Homo sapiens: one gene and its partner. The protein of the gene in region 1 purifies or fractionates together with the protein of each later gene. This does not show direct contact. Each region holds a gene or a part of one and is shown in the gene's direction. Other genes may lie near its edges.

Region 1 (3,753 bases):
AGGAGTCAATTGCAGTGCTTGTTGCCATAGTTCAGAACCTGCACCACAAAGACCCTTCCAGTTCTGTAGAGTGGTTTATTGCTTTATTATCAGTGCAATAGAGAGTCACTGAGTCACTGGAGGTTCTCTGTGTGTGTGAGTGTATAAATAAAGATTTAATTTTGTTTTGCTCTTTTGTTTTCCCCTCGGAATAGTTTATCAGATGAGGAATTTCTTGATCACTGGGGAGAAATATCTTACAATTCTGAAAACACACTGTCAAAATGCTTTTCATAAAATGTAGCACATTTTAGGGTTTCTCCCTTGTGTGGAAATGTTAGTGTCTATAAAGGTCTGAACTAAGAAAGCTTCTCTCAAGCCACAACACATGTGAGGTTCCTCTGCTGAATGAATCTTTTGGTGCTCAGTAAGTTGTGATTTCCAAGCAAAGTGTTTTTCACCCTGAGAAATTGGTGAGGTATCTTTCTCTCAGAGTCTTTTTTATGAAGTCTGATGTTGAGAGGTTCTTCCAGGTTGGAGTTCTCAGGTCTGTCTCCCTTGTAGATTATCAGAGTGGGTCGATAATCTACAAGCTTTGCTAAACCTACCTGTAGCTCTTCTGGGGCAGCGGTCGTGGTGGTGGTGGCAGCGGCAGCAGGGTTCCCCATTGATTTTCTAAATGTTTGTAGTCCTTTTGTAAAGTGGACCCTTGCCTTCTAAGGTAATGGTGAATGATACATATTCCCTTCATTTTTCTGCTTTGAAGCTTCAATCTTCTTCATTTTCTCTTTTGATCTGTCAACACAATCAGAACATTTAGCTCTTTGAGCATCTTTAAGGCAGTTGCTTTAAAGTCTGTCTAGTGAGTCAATGTTTGGTCTTCCTCATGTCCATTTTTTGTTGGTTTATTTTGTGCCTTTGAATGGTCAATACTTGTTTCTTTGTATGCATCGTGATTGTTTTTGTTGACAGCTAGACATTTGAATTTTATAATGTGGCAACTCTGGAAATAAGATTATTCCTTTTTCCCCAGGGTTTATTTTTTGTTGTTGTTTTTTGTGTTGTGTGTTTTTTGTTTTCGTTTTTGTTTTACTGTCATAGGCTGTCTCTGTGCTAGGGATCAGCCTGTGTTGAATGCCTAAAGTTGTCTCAATTCTTTACAGAGCCTGCGTTTTTCCCTGGGCGGGAGCAATGGCTTTCTGAATTCACCTAGATACACAGTTTTTTGAATGTCCAGAAAAACAGGTTTCATCCCTTTTTTCTCCTGGAAGCCACTTTAGCCAGTTGGGGGTTGGGAGAATGGTAGCTTGCTTCTTTGTCTGCTCTTTCTCTGTGATCAGAAGTAGATATCTGCAATCAGAACCCTGATATTTGGAGGAAGTGGCTATTATTGTCCACCCTGGCTGCAGCAAGCTGACCCAGAAATGTGGGGTTGTGTCTCCACAGCTGCCTGCCATGGAGTGGGTGGGGATGGGTAGCTGCTACTTCACTGAAGGCTGAAATCCACCAATGTTAACTGCAATTTACCACTCAGAATTTCCCCTAGAAGCTACAAGTGTTCAGATGGACTCATGTGCTCCCAAAATAATCACTTTAGGAACTTTCTGCCGATGTAATTATTATCTAGGTGGAGAGGTGGATTCCTGGGCCACTCTATCCATGTCTTTGATTTTTCCTGCTTTCTTGAAGATTTCTTCAACTTTATCTTCCAGCTCTACTATTAAATGTTGTGAATGTTTTTATCTCTGCTGTCATATTTTTATTTCCAAGTGCATTATCTGATTCTTTCTTCCTTTTTTCTAATTGGTTTTGTTTCATAGGTGAAATATTTTTTCTCTGAGCATGTTAATTATAGTGTCTTTCTGTGTTATTCTGCTCCCTGCATTATCCCTGTTTCCTTTGAGTTGTTTTCACCTGTTTTCTGTCTCTCACACTGGAGGCTTTCCTGAAGCCTCTGATGATCTTTGACTATTTATATTTAAGAGCAGGGCTCTAAAAAGCTGATTGGAAGGTGTTTTAGGTACTTCAGCACCATCCAACAGTAATATAATGTGAGCCACATACATAATTTCAAATTTTCTAGTAGCCACTTTTAGAAAATAAAACAGGTAAAATTAAAAATGTATTTTACTTCACCCAATATATCCATAATATTATTTCATCATGTAATCAATGTAAAAAAGTATTGAGACATTTTGTTTTTTGCACTATTTTTGAAATCTGGTATGTAATGTGTTAATCTACACACAAAATTTTCATTTGTAATACATAACTCACATTTAGATTTATAAAACGTAGAGTTGATAAGTAGATTCACATAGTTCTTCCAAACATACTTTGTTGTTGTTCTAAATATACTTAATTTTCCAATAACTGAATCAAGTATCCAGTTTTTGTTTTTTTTTTTTTTTTTTTTTTTTTGAGATGGAGTCTCACTCTGTTGCCCAGGCTGGAGTGCAGTGGCGCAATCTTGGTCCACTGCAACCTCCGCCTCCTGGGTTCCAGCAATTCTCCTGCTTCAGCCTCCCCAGTAGCTGAGATTACTGGTGCACACTGCCACGCCTGGCTAATTATTTTAGTAGAGGCGGGGTTTCACTGTGTTGCCCAGGCTGTTCTCCAACTCCTAAGCCCAGGCAATCTGCCTGTCTCGGCCTCCCAAAGTGCCGGGATTACAGGTGTGAACCGCCACACACAACCCCAATTTTTGTTTAAAATTTGCATCCACATTAACAAAACTTTTATTAGAAAAATTCATTTAATATCTAGGCAAAATTATATCACTTTCAAAACTTTTTAAGTAAATTCAGTAACATATCAATTCAGTTTATTAGCATCAAATTTGATGAAGCAGTGCATAAATGGAAACAAAACAGTTTATCAATACAATATATCATTCTTCAGATTTTGCTTATTTTTTGCAGCCATTTATTACATTTAAAATTTTGTGCATATTGTCTCATTTGAAAAATGTGAGTTATTCTGTTTTATTTGTATTATGAAATGTTTCTATTGTAAATAAATTCTTTTACCTGTCTAGCCAGGTCACAAGTTTTTCCCATTTTAGGAGCTTCAAATTTAGCTTGTTCATATGCAGCGTGATATTAGGGAGAAAATGTGAATCACAGTGCTACTTTTTGTCTTTGATTGAATATTTGGTAAGCATTTCTTTTGTTTCAAGGAAATCTTGAATTGGATTTTCTAGTACAGGAAATCCTTATAAAATTCTTTTGTAAGTCATCCAGGTAACATTGGTAAAGAAACAAGATCATTAGATACATTGTCTTTTTTTTTCAGAAGTTTCATAAACTGTCAACATTCTATAGCTTTTGTGCATATGTACTGAAGAATTATAACACATGTATCCGTGACTCGTTTCTTGGAGTCTGCTTCAGAAAATTGAACACAAATATTTTCAGTATGTATCATGCAATAGAATAGAGCAATGAGGGAAAAGTTATCCTCTTGCTTTAAAATTCCAACATGGATGGTCTTTTGACTTAACTTAGCTGGAGTTCCATCCTTGTGATAGAAACTAACTTTTCTGTCTCTAACTGAAATTCTTTGACAGATGGAAGATTGTCAAAAATATCTGCCATGAGTTTGAGCCTTTAGGCAATGAATTCACATTTCATTGCCTTTACATGAATCGACATTGTAAATTTGGAGGTTCTTTGAGACAGAATATACCCAGAGTTTTCTTTGGGCAGTGTCTTGTATCAAACAGTTCATCTAAGGCTAAAGAAAAATACTTGAAATTTTTCAAGATTTGAATTA
Region 2 (3,753 bases), on another chromosome or scaffold:
TTACAGGTGTGAGCCACCACGCCCAGCTGGGCTCTTTATTTTTATCTGTTTGTGTATTGCCTTTTTTTTTTTTTTTTTTTTTTTTTTTTGAGACAGAGTCTCGGTCTGTCACCCAGGCTGGAGTGCAGTGGTGTGATCTCGGCTCACTGCAACCTCTGCCTCCCGGGTTCAAGTGATTCTCCTGGCTCAGCCTCCCTAGTAGCTGGGACTATAGGCGTGCACCACCACGCCCATCTAATTTTTGTACTTTTAGTAGAGATGAGGATTTACCATGTTGGCCAGGCTGGTCTTGAACTCCTGACCTCAGGTGATCTGCCCACTTTGGCCTCCCAAAGTATTGGGATTACAGGCCTGAGCCATTGTGCCCCGGCCTACTGTCTTGATTACTATAACTTTATATGAAGTCTTGAAATTGGGTAATGTGACTTCTTCAACTGTTATTCTGTTTCATAATTGTTTTGGTTATTCTAGGTTCTTTGTATTTCCATATAAATCATAAAAGCAACTTGTCAATATCTACAAAAAGGACTACTGGTATTTTAGTTGGGATTGCATTAAATCTGTAGGTCAGTTTGAGGAAAATTGCCGTTTAATAACGTTGAGTCTCATGTTGTTTTAAAAAATAGAGGCGAGGTCTCACTATGTTGTCCAGGCTGGTCTCGTAGTCCTGGGCTCAAGCAACCCTTGAGCCTCAGACTCCCAAAGTGTTGGGATTACAGGCATTAGCCACCACGCCTGGCGCTAGTCTCCTGATTCTTGAATCCTGTATATCTCTGCATTTATTTAGATCTTTACTTTCTCTCAGCATATTTTGTCATGTAGCTGGGACTACAGGCGCCTGCCACCACGCCTGGCTAATTTTTGTAATTTTAGTAGAGATGGGGTTTCACCATATTGTTCAGGCTGGTCTCTACTCCTGACCTCGGGTGATTCACCTGCCTCAGCCTCACAAAGTGCTGGGATTACAGGCGTGAGCCACTGCGCCTGGCCAACACCTGGAACATTTAATTGAACATTTGTTGTTATTGTCTTAAACACTGGATGCCCCAAAAACCCTGTGGTTAAAAATGAATGGTGAAAAAATATGAATGGTGAAACCTGTTTGGTAACATCTTTATTTTCAGGTTGCTGGAGGAGCCAGTATGAGTCAGATTTCAGAAGCACTGAGCCGATACAGGAACAGATCATGTTTTGTGAAGGAAGCCCTCCACAGGCTGTTCACAGAGACATTTTCAATGGAGGTAACCATGCCTGCTATTTTAAAGGTAATTGAAGGAAGACAATTTTTACTATTACTTCTTAACTTGGTTCAATTAATAATTGTTCACGAACCACACTGAATATAATAAATTATATGCTTTATTCTATAGTGAGTCAAGTGCTCTCATAGAGCAAAGAATGTTAAGCTTAGCTGCCAAAGTGTCTTTTGCTTTGAGCATCTGGATTTATGTGGAATAAATTAGAATCAAAACAGTTAAAATTTGGTCTAAGTAAGGGAATAATAGGATCATGTGGCTTTCTGAAAGAAAACAAGTGCAGAACAAAATAAAAATAATTAAGGGTGGCCAAATCTACCACTTGAAGTATTTTGTGAATGACATAAAGTTGCTTTTATCGATATAGCCAAACTTAGCTTTGGTTTAGGGAAGGATGCGTTTTATTGTAAATGTAATTACAAGTATTAAGAGGCTTGGGAAAGAAAACTTCAGTTATTTATTTTTCTTTTATACATGTGTTTATTTGAAAATTGTTGTTTTTAGTGAAACATAACAATGAAAGGTCTTAAGAAAAACCTTGTCTTTATTTGTAATTTTTTGCAATTCCTTAAAAATGTGGATATTTTCCCAGCACTTTGGGAGGCCGAAGCGGGTGGATCACGAGGTCAAGAGATTGAGACCATCCTGGCCAACATGGTGAAACCCCGTCTCCACTAAAAACAATACAAAAATTTGGTGGGCGTGGTGGCGCACTCCTATAGTCCCAGCTACTTGGGAGACTGAGGCAGGAGAATCGCTGGAACTCGGGAGGTGGAGGTTGCAGTGAGCCGAGATTGTGCCATTGCACTCCCTCCTGGTGACAGAGCGAGACTCAAAAAAAAATATTTTTACAGCATGGGAGATTAACTTTATTTACAGCTCAAAAGCTGTATAAAGAAAAACTCTGGGTCAGCTGTGGTGGCTCATGCCTGTAATCCCACCACTTTGGTTGGGAGGCCGAGATGGGAGGATTTCCTGGGGCCAGGAGTTCAAGACTAGCCTGATCAACATTAGTAAGACCCTGTCTCTACAAAAATTTAGAAAAAGAAAAAAAATTAGCTTCTGGCTGGGCACCATGGCTCACGCCTGTAATCCCAGCACTTTTTGGGAGGCTGAGGTGGACAGATCACCTGAGGTCAGGAATTTGAACAGCCTGGCCAACATGGTAGAACCCCGTCTCTACTAAAAATACAAAAATTAGCCAGGCGTGGTGGCAGGTGCCTGTAATCCCAGCTACTCAGGAGGCTGAGGCAGGAGAATCACTTGAACCTGGGAGGTGGAGGTTGCAGTGAGCCGAGATGATACCACTGCACTCCAGCCTGGGCGACAGAGCAAGACTCTGTCTCAAAAAACAAAAAAAAAGTTAGGTGGGCATGGTTGTACATGCCTATAGTCCCAGCTACTTGGGTGACTGAGATTGGAGGACTACGTGAGCCCAGGATTTTTTTTTGGTTTTTTTTTTTTTTTGAGACGGCGTCTCGCTCTGTCGCCTAGGCTGGAGTGCGGTGGCTTGATCTCCGCTCACTGCAGGCTCCACCTCCCGGGTTCACACCATTCTCCTGCCTCAGCCTCCCAAGTAGCTGGGACTACAGGCGCCCGTCACCACGCCCAGCTACTTTTTTGTATTTTTTAGTAGAGATGGGGTTTCACCGTGTTAGCCAGGATGGTCTCGATTTCCTGACCTCGTGATCCGCCCGCATTGGCCTCCCAAAGTGCTGGGATTACAGGCGTGAGCCACTGCGCCCGGCAAGCCCAGGAGTTTGAGGCTGCTACAGTAAGCTATGATGGTGCCACTATACTCCAGCCTGGGTAACAGAGCGAGATCCCAACTCAAAAAAATAAAATAAATTAAAAATTCTCGACCTTTTTTTCCATCTGTAAGGAAGAGATTGAATTAGATGTTCTTCTGTTTTTGTTTGTTTTTGTTGTTCTTTGAGACAGGGTCTCACTCTGTTGCCCAGGCTGGAGTGCAGTGGCATGATATGATCTCAGCCAACTGCAGCCTTGACCTCCTGGGCTCAAGTGATCCTCCTGCCTCAGCCTCCTGAGTAGCTGGAACTATAGGCATGCCCCACCATGCCTGGCTGTTTTTTTTGTTTTTTCTGTAAAGATGAGGTCTTACTGTGTTGCCTAGGCTGAATTTAGATGTTCTAAATTTCTTTTCATACCAGGATTGTGTAGTTTTTGTGAAAATCACATTTCTTTTGGTTTCTGGATTTCTAAATTGCAGATGATGGCAATCTAATGAAACTGAAAAATCAATTTAGCAATATACAAAAAAAAAGTCATTTTCCATAGCAGAAGTATATCCCAGGTCTGTCTCTAGTAGAGGAAACAGATCACAGTGTCCTTGAATGACAGAGCAGGTGGGGTCTAAGCTTGGAACAATGCCCTCATTTTACATTTGTGTTCTAGGTCTTCCACAGTGTAGCTTCAAGTTACCTAATGTTTTGTTTTACCATTTTTCAAATTCTTCTCCTCTGTTGGTGGATTTATC

Evidence for each region. The genes of interacting proteins can lie anywhere in the genome.
Region 2: the proteins of ZNF483 (region 1) and ZYG11A purify together in Homo sapiens (affinity purification with mass spectrometry; 2 studies listed by BioGRID and IntAct, with this or other methods). This does not show direct contact.

What each region holds. Positions count from the first base shown.
Region 1 is NC_000009.12:111,549,026-111,552,778, forward strand, and holds part of ZNF483 (zinc finger protein 483), read left to right. Parts: 3' UTR 1-747; coding exon of another isoform or gene 748-774; 3' UTR 775-3,753. UniProt on the Homo sapiens protein: May be involved in transcriptional regulation.
Region 2 is NC_000001.11:52,859,607-52,863,359, forward strand, and holds part of ZYG11A (protein zyg-11 homolog A), read left to right. Parts: intron 1-1,124; coding exon 1,125-1,265; intron 1,266-3,753. UniProt on the Homo sapiens protein: Probably acts as a target recruitment subunit in an E3 ubiquitin ligase complex ZYGA-CUL2-elongin BC.